Linked DNA regions of Homo sapiens: all the other regions are linked to region 1. The links come from fine-mapping of genetic effects on gene expression. A gene starts in region 1. Each other region holds a variant in brackets. All regions are shown on one strand. Distances are between the middles of the regions.

Region 1 (4,202 bases):
AGGCGGGCGGATCATTTGAGGTCAGGAGTTAGAGACCAGCCTGGCCAATGTGGTGAAACCCCGTCTCTACTAAATATGCAAAAATTAGCCGGGCATGGTTGCAGGCGCCTGTAATCCCAGTTACTCAGGAGGCTGAGGCAGGATCTTGAATCTGGGAGGCGGAGGTTGCAGTGAGCCCAGATCGCGCCACTGCACTCCAGCCTGGCGATAGAGCGAGACTCTGTCTCAAAATAAATAAATTAATTAATTAAATTAAGAAGTGCTAAGGCAGTAAGTGAAGTTAGGTCCAAGCAAATTATTTAAGGAAAAGACCTTTACTCACTAATACAGGCAACACAGCCCATAGAAAATGCCCTAAGAGAGTCAGAGGACCTGGGTCCAATGTCACCTGTGCCTCTAAATAGCTGTAAGCACTTACCAGGAAAAGCTGAGTTGAGGAACTTATATCAAAGTACAGCGGAAAGTGTCGTTAATAAAACGGCAAGGGAAGAGAGGTAGCAAATTAAAACTTCTGGAAACCAAAAATGCTTGTGGGTAAATGAGTTTTAAAATTTTTCTAATTCCAGTTTATCCATTTCAATCCAGGACAAGATATTTCATAGTTTCAGTAAAGTATCTACAAAATATTTACTTACACTTCCTATTTCTCCTCTCGATTTGCAAACGCACCTTCTAAGATTTATGCTTGCACTACAAGGCACGGTCTACTATTAATATAACACTTTACAAAACACGCTCAGAACGCCTTTCTAAAGCAATTAGAAAACAAAACAAAAACCCAATAGCCTTTGGCAAGGGCATTCCAATGAAGCACTGATACCTCTTTAGGAAATCCTTTCGAAGCAATCCCTCACCCCTCTGCCCAGATATGCTAATCCCTCCGACTGCATAAGGTCCAAGCTAAAGCTTCCGCTGGGGCACGGACTGTACGGCCACCGCGCCCTCCTCACAGAAAGGCGAAACGGGGCTGTCCGGTGCCGACGCCGAGGTTGGTGTCGTCAGGGGGTCTGGAACCACGCCAAGGAAGTCGACTGCCGGATCGCCGCCCGGCGCCCGCAGACGGCGAGCGCTCCTTCTCCCGGGCACTGCAGCTGTGCGCTCCCGGAAGCATTCCGGGCGGAGGGAAGCGGCCGCGATCCGCGCCTGCTGGGAACCGTGCCAAAGTTGGGACCCGCGCTGGGGAGGCAGCCGAGCGCCCCACGCCACGTGCTACCGACCGGCGGGGAGCGCAAGAGCGCTGCACCCCGCACAGAGGCCTGCCGGGCCGCCGAGGGCCGTGAGCTAAGCCGGGGACCGGGCCGCGCCGACCCGGGCCGCGCTGAGCCGGGCCGCGCGCCCACCGGGGGTCCCTTCCGCCAGCCCGTTGGGAAGGTTGGCAGACGCCCTACCTTCTCCTCGCCATCGTAGATTCGCACCCCGCGCTGCTGGATCACCAGGGTCTCGTTGATCTCCAGGAGGCCGCTGGTCCAAACGAAGCGGTCCATGGCCGCTGCCACCCAGCCCCGGCCCTCCGAGGCCGCGAGCAGCGCGCCAGGCAGCCTGCGGCGCCCCCTAGCGTCGGACGGGACGGAAGCGAGTCGGGGCGGGTGAGGGACGGAGGGAGCGGCCTGGCAGCGAGCGGGCGCGGCTGCGAGGTGCGCCCGGGGACGTGGAGACGTGCGTGGAGCGCCCCCTGGCGGTCCATTAGCCGCCGGCCTTTCAGAACCCTTGATCAGCAGGCGGTCCACCCCATTCTAAATTCAGAGCTTACAGGGACGCGAGGGAGCCCCGACCACAGCTTGGACTTGCTTATTGTGCATTATGCCTGCATGTTTGTGGCAGTTTTCTTGTCAGTGCCCAGAATGTTGCTACATTCGCTAATGATTGTAAATAATCATAACCCCTCTCTTTCAAATGAATATTTATGGCACGCATTGTTTCTGTACAGCTGCAGTCAGTACTACCTGTGCTGCTCTTTTTTTCCCTTTAAGATTATATTGTAACACAAAGGATAAATGCTTGAGGTAACGGATACCTCATTTACCCTGATGTGATTATTATACAGTGTATGCCTGTATCAAAATATCCCATATACCCCAGAAATATATACACCTATGTACCCACACAAATTAATTTTTTTTTAACTGGGGGAAACAGATTTTATTTAACCGGGCTTGATGCGCGCGCCTGTATTCCCAGCTGCTTCCGAAGCTGAGGCGGGAGGATTGCTTGAACCCAGGAGTTTGACACCAGTGGGCGACATAGAAAGACCCTTTCCCCCTCCACCCCAACTCCCCCACGCCACTCCACTCCCCCACCCCCAGGCTCAGAAAAAAAAGATTATTTTTATTTAGGCATTTTCAATATTAATACAGACCTCATGCGTGAATTTACATTTCAATATGTAGTTCCTCTATAATTTAGCTGTTTGTTGGTCTGCGCAAAGCCATCCATGGCCGCTGCTCTCACCCACCAGGCGGCCTCGTGCCCCTAGCCATTTCATTTTTGTATTTTGCTTTATAAATGGAACACCTGGCCGGGCGCGGTGGCTCACGTTTGTAATCCCAGCACTTTGGGAGGACAAGGCGGGCGGATCACAAGTCAGGAGTTCGAGACCAGCCTGGCTAACATAGAGAAACCCTGTCTCTACTAAAAATACAAAAAATTAGCCCGGCGTGGTGGCGGGTGCCTGTAATCCCAGCTACTCGGGAAGCTGAGGCAAGAGAATCGCTTGAACCCTGGAGGTAGAGGTTGCAGTGAGCCGAGATCGCACCATTGCACTCCAGTCTGAGCGACAGAACGAGACTCTGCTTCAAAAATAATAATAATAAATAATAAATAAATAAATAAATGGAGCAGCTTATAGATGTCCTTCTACAATTGATACATATTTTTCTCTTTAGGATTATTTTCTTACAGTGTCTTCCTAAAATAGAATGACTGCTTTAAAGGTTGTGAACACATTTTAGAGAGCCTACCACTTATTGGGGTCTTAACTAAGGCTGCGTGCCCACGTGGGCAGAGGGGCACAGGGGCAGAGGGACAGAGGGCAGGCTTGCTCTCTGCCCCCAGGGCTCCACATTTCCCCCAGTCGTGGAGTCAGTGGTCTGTGGCTAGGCATTAAAAGAAAGGAAAGGCTCTTTCCAATGAGTATAAGCCATCTCTCCCCCGAAATGAATTGCTACTTTTACCGTGTTCCAAAATCCTGTGTGTATTTTGGTCTATTTCTAAACAGTGTCTTCTGTATTTCATATCTTTCAATTTCCATCATGACCATATACCCAATAACCAAAAGTTCTTTGAAAACATTTGATTTGCTGTAATATGCTATCAATATATATCACAATTTACCATCATTGCCTGATTTTTGAGCATTTGATTGTTTACCAACTTTTTAGTCTTTTTTAATTGAAAGTAATGTGACCTAAGCATCCTAATCAGATGTGGAACTGTGCAGTTATGCCTGGGCTTTGCAATTATCAACATGTTAGGCAGTGAGGACATTTGCAAGGTATGTTTTCTGCCCTTGAGGGATGTACAGTCTGTAGGACACAAATAGAAGCCTGGCATATGATAGCTGCTGGGATAGACAACCGTATAAGGGTTTCCTGTATCCAGGCTGGAGCAAGGAGAAACGTCATGTGGCTTATATATGGCAATAAATGAATAGACAAAAGGTTTTAATTTTTATGAAGTTCAGTGTATTTTTTTCTTTCATAGTTCATGGAATTTGCCTATTTAAGAAATCTTTTTTCCACAAACCAGATATTGATACTGATTATGAAATCTTTGCCTAACACAAAGTCACTAAGATTTTCTCCTATAATTTCTTCTAGAAGCTTCATAGTTTTGGTTCTTACATTTAGGTCTATGCTTTTTTTTTTTGAGACAGAGTCTCACTCTGCCGCCCAGGCTGGAGTGCAATGGCACAATCTCGGCTCACTGCAACCACTGACTCCTGGGTTCAAGCGATTCTCCTGCCTCAGCCTCCCGAGTAGCTGGGATTACAGGTGCCTGCCACCACGCCTGGCTAACTTTTGTATATTTTGTAGAGACAGGGTTTCACCATGTTGGCAAAGCTGGTCTTGAACTCCTGACCTCAGGTGATCCACCCGCCTTGGCCTCCCAAAGTGCTGGGATTACGGGCATGAGCCACCACGCCCAGCCATCCCCAGGATGTTTTTGCCAGGACCTCCCACCTTCTGAATCAGATGGTTCCTTTC
Region 2 (4,241 bases), 280 kb after region 1:
ACAAACAAGAATAGAGATAAAGTCAGGTAATAACTGTTAAGAAGAAAAATAAGACAGGAATGATGAGGTGGTAATTTAGACAGACAGCATAGTCAGGGGAGGTGACTCAATGAGGGGATGATATTTGAGCTGGGACAGAATATGTTAGTTATTCCATCTATATTCACAAGCTCAGATGAAATGCCACCTTCTCCATGCAGCCTTCTCTGAACATCTCAGCCTAAGCAGCTGTCTTTCCTCTGCTTTCCCATAAGTCCTCCTGTCTTCATTCCTCAACTGGGATGCTTACTCAGCTATACACAGCCTACTTAGTTATAAGCTTCTTGAGATCAGTATTTGAATCTTTTCTGTTTTCTTTTTTGGTGACCCCACAAAGCTATTCAAAAGATGTTGGTCAAATTAATTAATTCTGTGAATTCAGAATTTTCCTAGGTTACTGAGCCCAGAGTAAACAGTAAAACTTTCTACAGCACCTGGTTCTGAACTTTCCTTCTATACCTTACCCAAGGACTTAGATGTTTTTTTTTTGTCTCCTGAGAGATATAAACAATATCTTCTCTTGGTCTGCCTAGGGACTGCCTCAAGGGAAACATCAGCCACAAAGCTCCAGTCTTGGCTGAAAGCACAGCCCCGATTCTACCCACAGAGGACATGAGGGGTAACAGGATGCTCTGTCCCAAGAATGTTTACTCTCCTCCTGCTGCTGTTAGTTTCAGGACTAGTGAATCTAAAATAAAGGCCTACAATTTTTATGGTATAATAATGGAGATACTAGCACAAATCTGAACCTTATCAGTCCTCTGTTGAGTTGAGGCAAGTGTTGGAATGATATAGAAATGGTACCAGGGCCAGTGATAAAGAATGGGGGTAGAAAACACTTAAAATCTAGGGATCCTGGCTCAAGATTCAGCCCTTTACAATGAAGAAGAAAATTAAATGTAAGTCATGCTGGAGGGGATTAATGGATAGCTCTACCTTATGTAGTCACAGAGCCAGGAGCCCTACAGAAGCTGGTGAGTAAAGGACTGCAAAACACAGAAGAAAAGGCTCATTCTTCCTCAAGCTCTTTATTATTTGTCTTGTGGCTTAATTAATCATGTATACATATGTAACTCATTTCACCTATTTCTCCCAGCACTACTGCTCACTCAGAGAGACAGGGGCATTATCCCCACTTTACAGAAGAGGAGCTCCGAGGCTCACTGCTGAGGCTTGGCTCTTAACTGCACCTGAATTCACTGTAGAGGGTTTAAGAACACAGACGCCTGGGTCCCTTCCCAGAGATTCCCATTTGATTGGTTTGCTTTGGGGCCCAGGTATTGGGAGCCTTAAAAGCTCCCCAGGTGTTTATAATTTAAAGGGTTGATGCCAGGGTTGAAGACTACCATATGAAAGAGAAAGGTGTTCAAGGTAACAAAGCTTTTAAAGTGATGGCAATAACCTTTGGACCCAAGTTTCTTTTTATCAGTGGTTCACAAACCTTCCCTTGTATCAAAAATCCCCTGGGTCCCCAGCAAAACTTCAGAACAGTCTTCATTAACAACCACACCTTAAGCTACCAAGAAAAATCACAGACACCACCGACGCTGTTTACAGCTAAAAAAAAAAAAAACATACAGAGACTATACTACTGCATGCACCCAGAATGAAAGCTGAAGTGCCCTACCTAACCAACACCAAAAGTCCACACCTATGAAAGCAAATTTAAAAAACTGTAATAAGCAACTATTAAATCAGATGCACAGATATCAACACAAGGACACAGGAAGCATGAAAAAGCAATAAAACATGACACTCCCAGAGGAATACAATAATTCTCCAGCAACAGATCACAATCAAAAACAAATTTATGAAATCCCAGAAAAAAAATTAAATATTGATATTAAAGAAGCTCCGTGAGATACAAGAGAATACTGAAAAACATGACAAAGAAATCAGAAAGACAATTTAGGATATGAATGAGAAATTTAATAAGGAGATGTATATTATGAAAAAGAACGAAATAGAAATTATAGAACTGAAGAATTCATTGAATGAAATACAATATACACTTAAAAGATTCAACAATAGAAGCCAGGCACAGTGGCT[C/T]ACACCTGTAATCCCAGCACTTTGGGAGGCCAAGGTGAGTGGATCGCCTGAGGTCAGGAGTTCGAGACCAGCCTGGCCAACTATAAACCCCATCTCTACTAAAAATACAAAAAAATAAAAAATAGCTGGCCATGGTGGTGCACGCCTGTTATCCCAGTTACTCGAGGCTGAGGCAGGAGAATCGCTTGAACTCAGGAGGTGGATGTTGCAGTGAGTTGAAATGGCACCACCGCACTTCAGCCTGGGTGACAGAGCCAGACTCCGTCTCAAATAAAAAAAAATGATTCAACAATAGACTATTTCAGGCATCTCAGAACTTGAAGAGAAGTCTTTTGAAATAACCCAGTCAGACAAAAATAAATAAAAAAGAATAAAAAAGGGCCAAGCATAGTGTCTCATGCCTGTAATCCCAACACTTTGGGAGGCTGAGGCAGAAGGACTGCTTGAGCCCAGGAGTTCGCAACCAGCCTGCACAACATGGTGAGACCCCATTTCTACAAAAAAATTTTAAAAATTAGCTAGGTGTGGTGGTGTGTGCCTGTAGTCCCAGCTACTTGGAAGGGAGAAGGATCACTGGTATATATATATATATCCACAATGGAATACTATTTGGCCATAGAAAAGAATGAAATCATGTCATTTCCAGTAACATGGATGGAACCAGAGGTCATTATGTTAAATGAAATAAGCCAGGCACAGAAAGACAAATGTCATATGTTCTCTCTCCTATGTGGGAGCTAAAAAAGTTGATCTCATGGAAGCAGAAAGTAATGATAGATACCAGAGGCTGAGAAGGATATATGGGTGGAGCTGGGGGAATGAAGACAGGTTGGTTAGTGGGTGGTAAAAACATGCAGTTAGACAGAAGAAATAAGTTCTAATGTTCAGTAGCAGAGTGGGGTGACTATAGTTAGCAACAATGTATTGTATGTTTCAAAGCAGCTAGAAGAGAGGACTTGAAATGTTCCCAACACATAGAAATGAAAACCAAATACCCTAACATTATCATTACACATCCTATTCATGTAACAAAATATCACATATATCTCATAAATATATAAAATATTATGTAACAATTTTAAAAAGGCAAATTAAAAAATCACCTGGGCCAGGGCGGTGGCTCACGCCTGTAATCCCAGCACTTTGGGAGGCCGAGGCAGGAGGATCACGAGGTCAAGAGATGGAGACCATCCTGGCCAACATGGTGAAACCCCATCTCTACTAAAAATACAAAAATTAGTTGGGCGTGGTGGCGTGCACCTGTAGTCCCAGCTACTCGGGAGGCTGAGGCAGGAGAAACCCAGGAGGCAGAGGTTGCAGTGAGCCAAGATTGCACCACTGCACTGCAGCCTGGCGACAGAGCGAGACTCCATCTCAAAAAAAAAAAAAAATTCACTTGGAGGACTTGTTAAATTAAACAGTGTTGTGCCCCACCCCCAGTTTCCCATTCAGTAGGTCTGGGGTGGGGCCTAAAATCTGCATTTCTAACAAGCCAAGTGATGCTCCACTGGCAGCCTGAGGAATACACGTGGAGAATAACTGCTTTCTCTTATGCTACCTCCTGTAGGGCTGCTGCTCTTATTTGGCATGTAAATTTAGGACTCATAGTTTGAAAAACAGAAGGCAGGGAGGGAGATGATGCCTTCTTATGTGACATTTTCTCTTAACTTCAAACACATCCCCTGAATGTGAGATGTGTGGAGGGAATGCACACATCTCCGTCACCATATCCCCAAAGGGGAAAGCTGATTCTACTGAATGATTCGCAGCACTGAATGGGAATCTAGTGTTAAGTTGGTTCTGACAGTCGACACACCGCAGTGAGAACTGAAACCCCCATGGGGTAGGAAGTGTGGGAAAGAATTCACACATATTAACTACCGTGTCTAGCAAAAACTCCACATCAAGCAGCCAGATATATTAAGAGATTAAACAGAGGGAACTAAAAGAAGCACAAGAAAGCCAAGCAAACCTCCTGTTTTTGCAAACAAACAGGCTTTAGAAGCTGGTGGTAATGAAGAAATTTGCTAGCAAGGGTGATGAGTGGAGAGTCCAAGAATCTAACATTCTTTTTTCAAAACAGTGATGTAATCTTACCTTGGCTGCACATTTTTTTCTTTCTAAGGTATCTCATCTATTTCTATGGCTTAAAC
Region 3 (4,241 bases), 120 kb after region 1:
TGTTTTTGGGTGACTCCCGTGTGTGTGTGTGTGTGTGTGTGTGTGTGTGTGTGTGTGTGTGTGGTGGGGGAGGTGTATTTTAAAAGAGAAAGAAAAGGGGAAATAAACTTTTCAAAAACCCTTTTATATACCAGACAGTACTGCACTTTTACATATCTCATTGAAAACCCATAACACCTATATGAAACATATGCTGTTACTCTGTTTTTTCTTTTAAAAATAATTTCGTTATGGAAAACTTTAATCATATACAAAAGTCCAGAGAATCATACAATATATCTCCATGTAGTCATCACTTCGCTGCAACAATCATTTCAGCCTGCAACTGGCCACGTTTCATCCATACTTTTCCCACTCCACTCACACCCCCAACCCCACTCTCCACTCTTGCTTTCCCCAAACCTGGATTATTTGGAAGGAAATTTCAGTCATCAGATCATTTTATCCCACAAGTATTTTAGTATGACATCTAAGTACTCTTAAAACAACAACAAAAAACCCTTAATAACTTTTATCATATCTGAAATATTACACCTTAAAAATCCTTAATATCAAATTTCTAGTCCATGTTTGTTTCCAAAATTGTCTTAAAATCTTTGAAAATTTAGTTTGTTTCAGTCAGAATTCAAACAACATCCACACATTTCATTTGGTCGCTATGTCTCCTAAGTCTCTTTTAGTTCATAGATTTCTTGCCATTTTTTATTGCTTGTAATTTGTTTACTGCAGAAACCAGAATGTTTATCGTATAGCATTTACAACATTCTAGACTTTGCTGAACCATTCTAAGAGTTTTACATTCACTATCTCATTTAATATTCTCAGTAACTCTATGAGTAGGCACTACTATGATTCTCATCTTATAAATTAGAAAATTGAGGTTCAGAGAAATTAACTTTTGAACCAAGGACTGAAATCTAGATGTCAGACTCTGAAGCCCATGCTGTGCACAGCTTCTCATTTATATTGCCTTTTCTATATTGCCCCTCAAACCGAAGTGAGAGTGGGTTGGGAATTCTCAAATAGATTTGGATGTGGCTGTAAATGAGTTTTTCTTTAGGTGGTGGGAACTGAATAAGTACTCTTGGCCCTGTTATAAGAACACTAACTACTGTCCCCGTTTAGTTTGGGCAAAAGAACTCAGCCTTATCCACTGATACTTTTCTCCCACACCCAAGCCAAAAACAAAACCAGACAAAGAACAGTCATAGACCCTAAGCGAAAAGGAATGTGTGGATTTACTGAAGTGCAGCCCTACTCATGCCATTTCCATGCTCAAAATCCAGAGTATGTCCCCACTGCCAGTAGCAATAAACTAAATGTTTCAACCTGGCACTCAAGATCCACAGTTTGACTTTTCCAACCTTTTCTTCCACTATGTGCATGCACACATCCCACACTCTAACACATTTAGACTGTGTGCTGTTTCCCAGCCCATGGACACTTGATTCCCTCGTGCCATTTCTCATGCCCCTTTTCCTAGAGTCCCTTTCCCTTCCCAGCCTGAAGTAGTCTCTTGCTTTTTCAGTTCCTAAAGCCCTTTGTGTTTCTCTTAGGGATGATATCACTTTGCATTGTTCTCTAGCTATTTGAAGTGGTGACTTCTGTTTCCCCTTTAAAGGCAAGGCCCATGGCTTACCCATCTTTCCACCCTTTCCTCATAATATCTTCTTTGTTTGTAGTGAGTACCTCCTATGGGTTGGTTGTATGAATTTCTACTACCAGTCCATGTTGTTTTAAGTTGTAGTAGAAAGAAGCATGGGAGCAAAAGCAGCTTGAGGGCCCTGGCAGGTTACAGCCTTTAGGGGAAGGTGGAGAATCTGGTGGCAGGAGCCAAGGAGATGTTAGATAGAGCTCCTTCAGCAACTCACCCCACACGTCTCCCCATCCCCATCTCTTCTGTAGTCATGCATAGTTTCCCGAACTTTAGTCCAGAACTAGCACACCAAAGGCTGCAACTGAATCTCTTCTGATTGACTGAGAAGGCAACACAGGGTCTCAGCTGCACATTTGAGAGATGTGTT[G/A]GCAAGACCTCAGGACAGAGTGCCCTCTGTGTCTGGTGGTGATTCTCGGATACCATCACATTCTGATCCTGCATTGTGGGCCATTCTACTGACTACATCTACTCCTAAGTTAAGAACTTTCATGAGCCTTCCTCATGACTGGCCCTTTCTAAAGGAAAGTATGGCAGTTTGTTACTTCTATGAACATTTCTCAATGGGTAAGATAGAGTCCATGAACTTATGAGTACTTCTTCTTTTTTTTTTTTTTGGAGACAGAATCTGTCTGTCACCCAGACTGGAGTGCAGTGGTGCAGTCTCAGCTCACTGCAACCTCGACCTCCTGGGTTCAAGCAATTCTCCTGCCTCAGACTCCCAAGTAGCTGGGATTACAGGTGCCCACCACCACGCATGGCTAATTTTTGTAGCTTTAGTAGAGACGGGGTTTCACCCTGTTGGCCAGGCTGGTCTCGAACCCCTGACCTCAAGTGATCTGCCCACCTCGGCCTCCCAAAGTGCTGAGATTACAGGTGTGAGCCACCAGCGCAGCCAACTTTTGAGTTCTGAACCAGTTGATTCAGTACCAGAGCTCTTCAACTCCTTGAAGATAGATTCAAGGAGAGCCACTGTGAACAGCTTGCCCTAGGAAAAGGACAAGGCTAAGGGAATTCCGGGGCTTCCTTGTGAAAACAGAATTGGGGAAATGGAAAGTGAAGAAATCCTAGCTGTCAGGAACAAGAGAAGAATGACAGGAAACCTGCTACTGAGATATGGAGGTATTCCTCTTGAGTTTTCACATATGGCATTCTCTCATGCCCAGGAACCTGCTCTTCACTAAACCACACACCTTCCTCTAACTCAGTCACAACTAAGCTTCTATCTGCACACTGCTAATGCTGTAACTGTTTTGTTGTTGGTTCTGATTAGTTGCCCTCTCAACCATAAGCAGCCTGTCAACAAGACCTGGCTCCATCCTTGTCACTTCCCCATAGCACTTAATTCAGTATTTTTTCCCCAAGGTAGATAGTTGTGAGGCAGCATCCCTCAAAATATCTAGTAACATAATGGCATCCAGTAAATGTTTCCTTAATTATTTACTGCCCTTAACCTTTATGCAAAAAAAAAAAAAAAAAAAAGGGAAAACTGAAAATAGGAATGCTGACTTCAGGCTTTTCATCTCCACTTAAAGTAAGGCTTCTGTTGCTTTTCAGAATAGATATGTTGGATATTTTGCACAAGTGAAACATAGCTACAACTGGAATCTCCCTCCAAGAAAAACACTGTTTATAAAAAGATTAGTTATTTATTCGATTCATGGTAAGTGTTTATGTAAAATTGAAGAATTGGGCAGGAGGGCCAAGGTTCCCACTCTGGGAGGGTTTTGCTCATTGTTATATACACAGATGATCCTAACTTATACCTGTCTTTTTACGTATCCTCATGCATAAACTCCTCCTTAGGTATGCCCCTCCTCCTGGAATTGCCCATTGATTGCCAGCCCTTAGATGTTCTTCACTTTTTCTTTTCCATCACCAATTTGGAGGACTTCATCCCCTTCCCATCTCTCCTGTTCTCTTTGCTCTTCTGGTCACAACCCAAGGTGGACTTTTCAGGGCAGAGTGAGCCTCTGATGAGGGAGGAGGAGGTCCCATGTGCCTTCAAGACTGGTTATTTCTCAAACCACCTCTAGTTGAGAGTTTGTCTTGGTGGAGGTGTCTCCATATCATATCATTTTCTTACCTTCTTTCAGAGGCATATTTTTTTCTCATCCCCCTGGGCTCTCTCTTTCCCCTCTGTCCTCCATCTGTAACCCTCTCACTCCCAGCCACTCCCATACCTTGTGGCTCTCACTCCCAGCCACAGTGCTGGGGGTCAAGAAGAGCCTCCTAGGAGGAGCGCTTAGGTCTTCCCTGCCTGAATCTACATGAAAATGGAAAGGGTTGCGAGAGAGTGGGGCTCTATGGAGGTATCTTTCACCCACCTAGCTGTTACCGAGTATTAGCAGTTGTAAAAATCCATATAAACATCATGAGAGCTATTTGCCTGCTTCCAGAATGTAAGCAGAGAGATAAAGCTGGGATGCACTGTTGCCCAGGGACGCAGGCAAATTGGTCAGTCGTACACCTTCGGGACTTGAGAAAGAAAGTGCAGAGAGAAACTGGCCTCCATTTCCATGTCCATTTCTCCATCACCAACCTTGCTTCCCCTGCACAGCTTAACACTCAGTAGAGGTGGGAAAGC

Which allele goes with the higher level. Positions count from the first base shown, and alleles are read on the strand shown. Sizes are in standard deviations (SD) of each study's normalised expression.
With allele C in place of T in region 2, the expression in whole blood of the gene that starts at base 1,524 in region 1 is higher (small effect, 0.29 SD a copy in Lepik 2017).
For the expression in monocytes of the gene that starts at base 1,524 in region 1, G is the high allele of the variant in region 3 and A is the other (moderate effect, 0.41 SD a copy in Quach 2016).

Evidence for each region. PIP is the estimated chance that this variant, and not a neighbour inherited with it, causes the effect.
Region 2: its variant is the best candidate, but not a certain one, in a credible set for the expression of VPS36 in whole blood (Lepik 2017, PIP 0.86).
Region 3: its variant is the best candidate, but not a certain one, in a credible set for the expression of VPS36 in monocytes (Quach 2016, PIP 0.62).

Annotation. Positions count from the first base shown.
Region 1 is chr13:52,449,111-52,453,312 of GRCh38, forward strand. It overlaps VPS36 (vacuolar protein sorting 36 homolog), which reads right to left and starts at 1,524. Exons shown (of 14, transcript NM_016075.4): 1 at 1,389-1,524. The coding sequence starts at 1,484. RefSeq lists an enhancer at 1,110-1,690 and silencers at 1,211-1,670, 1,711-1,770.
Region 2 is chr13:52,724,913-52,729,153 of GRCh38, forward strand. The region is part of intron 3 of CNMD (chondromodulin); the gene reads right to left. Among named protein-coding and RNA genes, the nearest start is that of CNMD, 13 kb to the right of the region's middle. The variant C/T (reference allele first, on the strand shown) is at 2,089.
Region 3 is chr13:52,573,860-52,578,100 of GRCh38, forward strand. The region is part of intron 2 of LINC00345 (long intergenic non-protein coding RNA 345); the gene reads right to left. It also overlaps the pseudogene TPTE2P3. Among named protein-coding and RNA genes, the nearest start is that of LINC00345, 24 kb to the right of the region's middle. The variant G/A (reference allele first, on the strand shown) is at 2,025.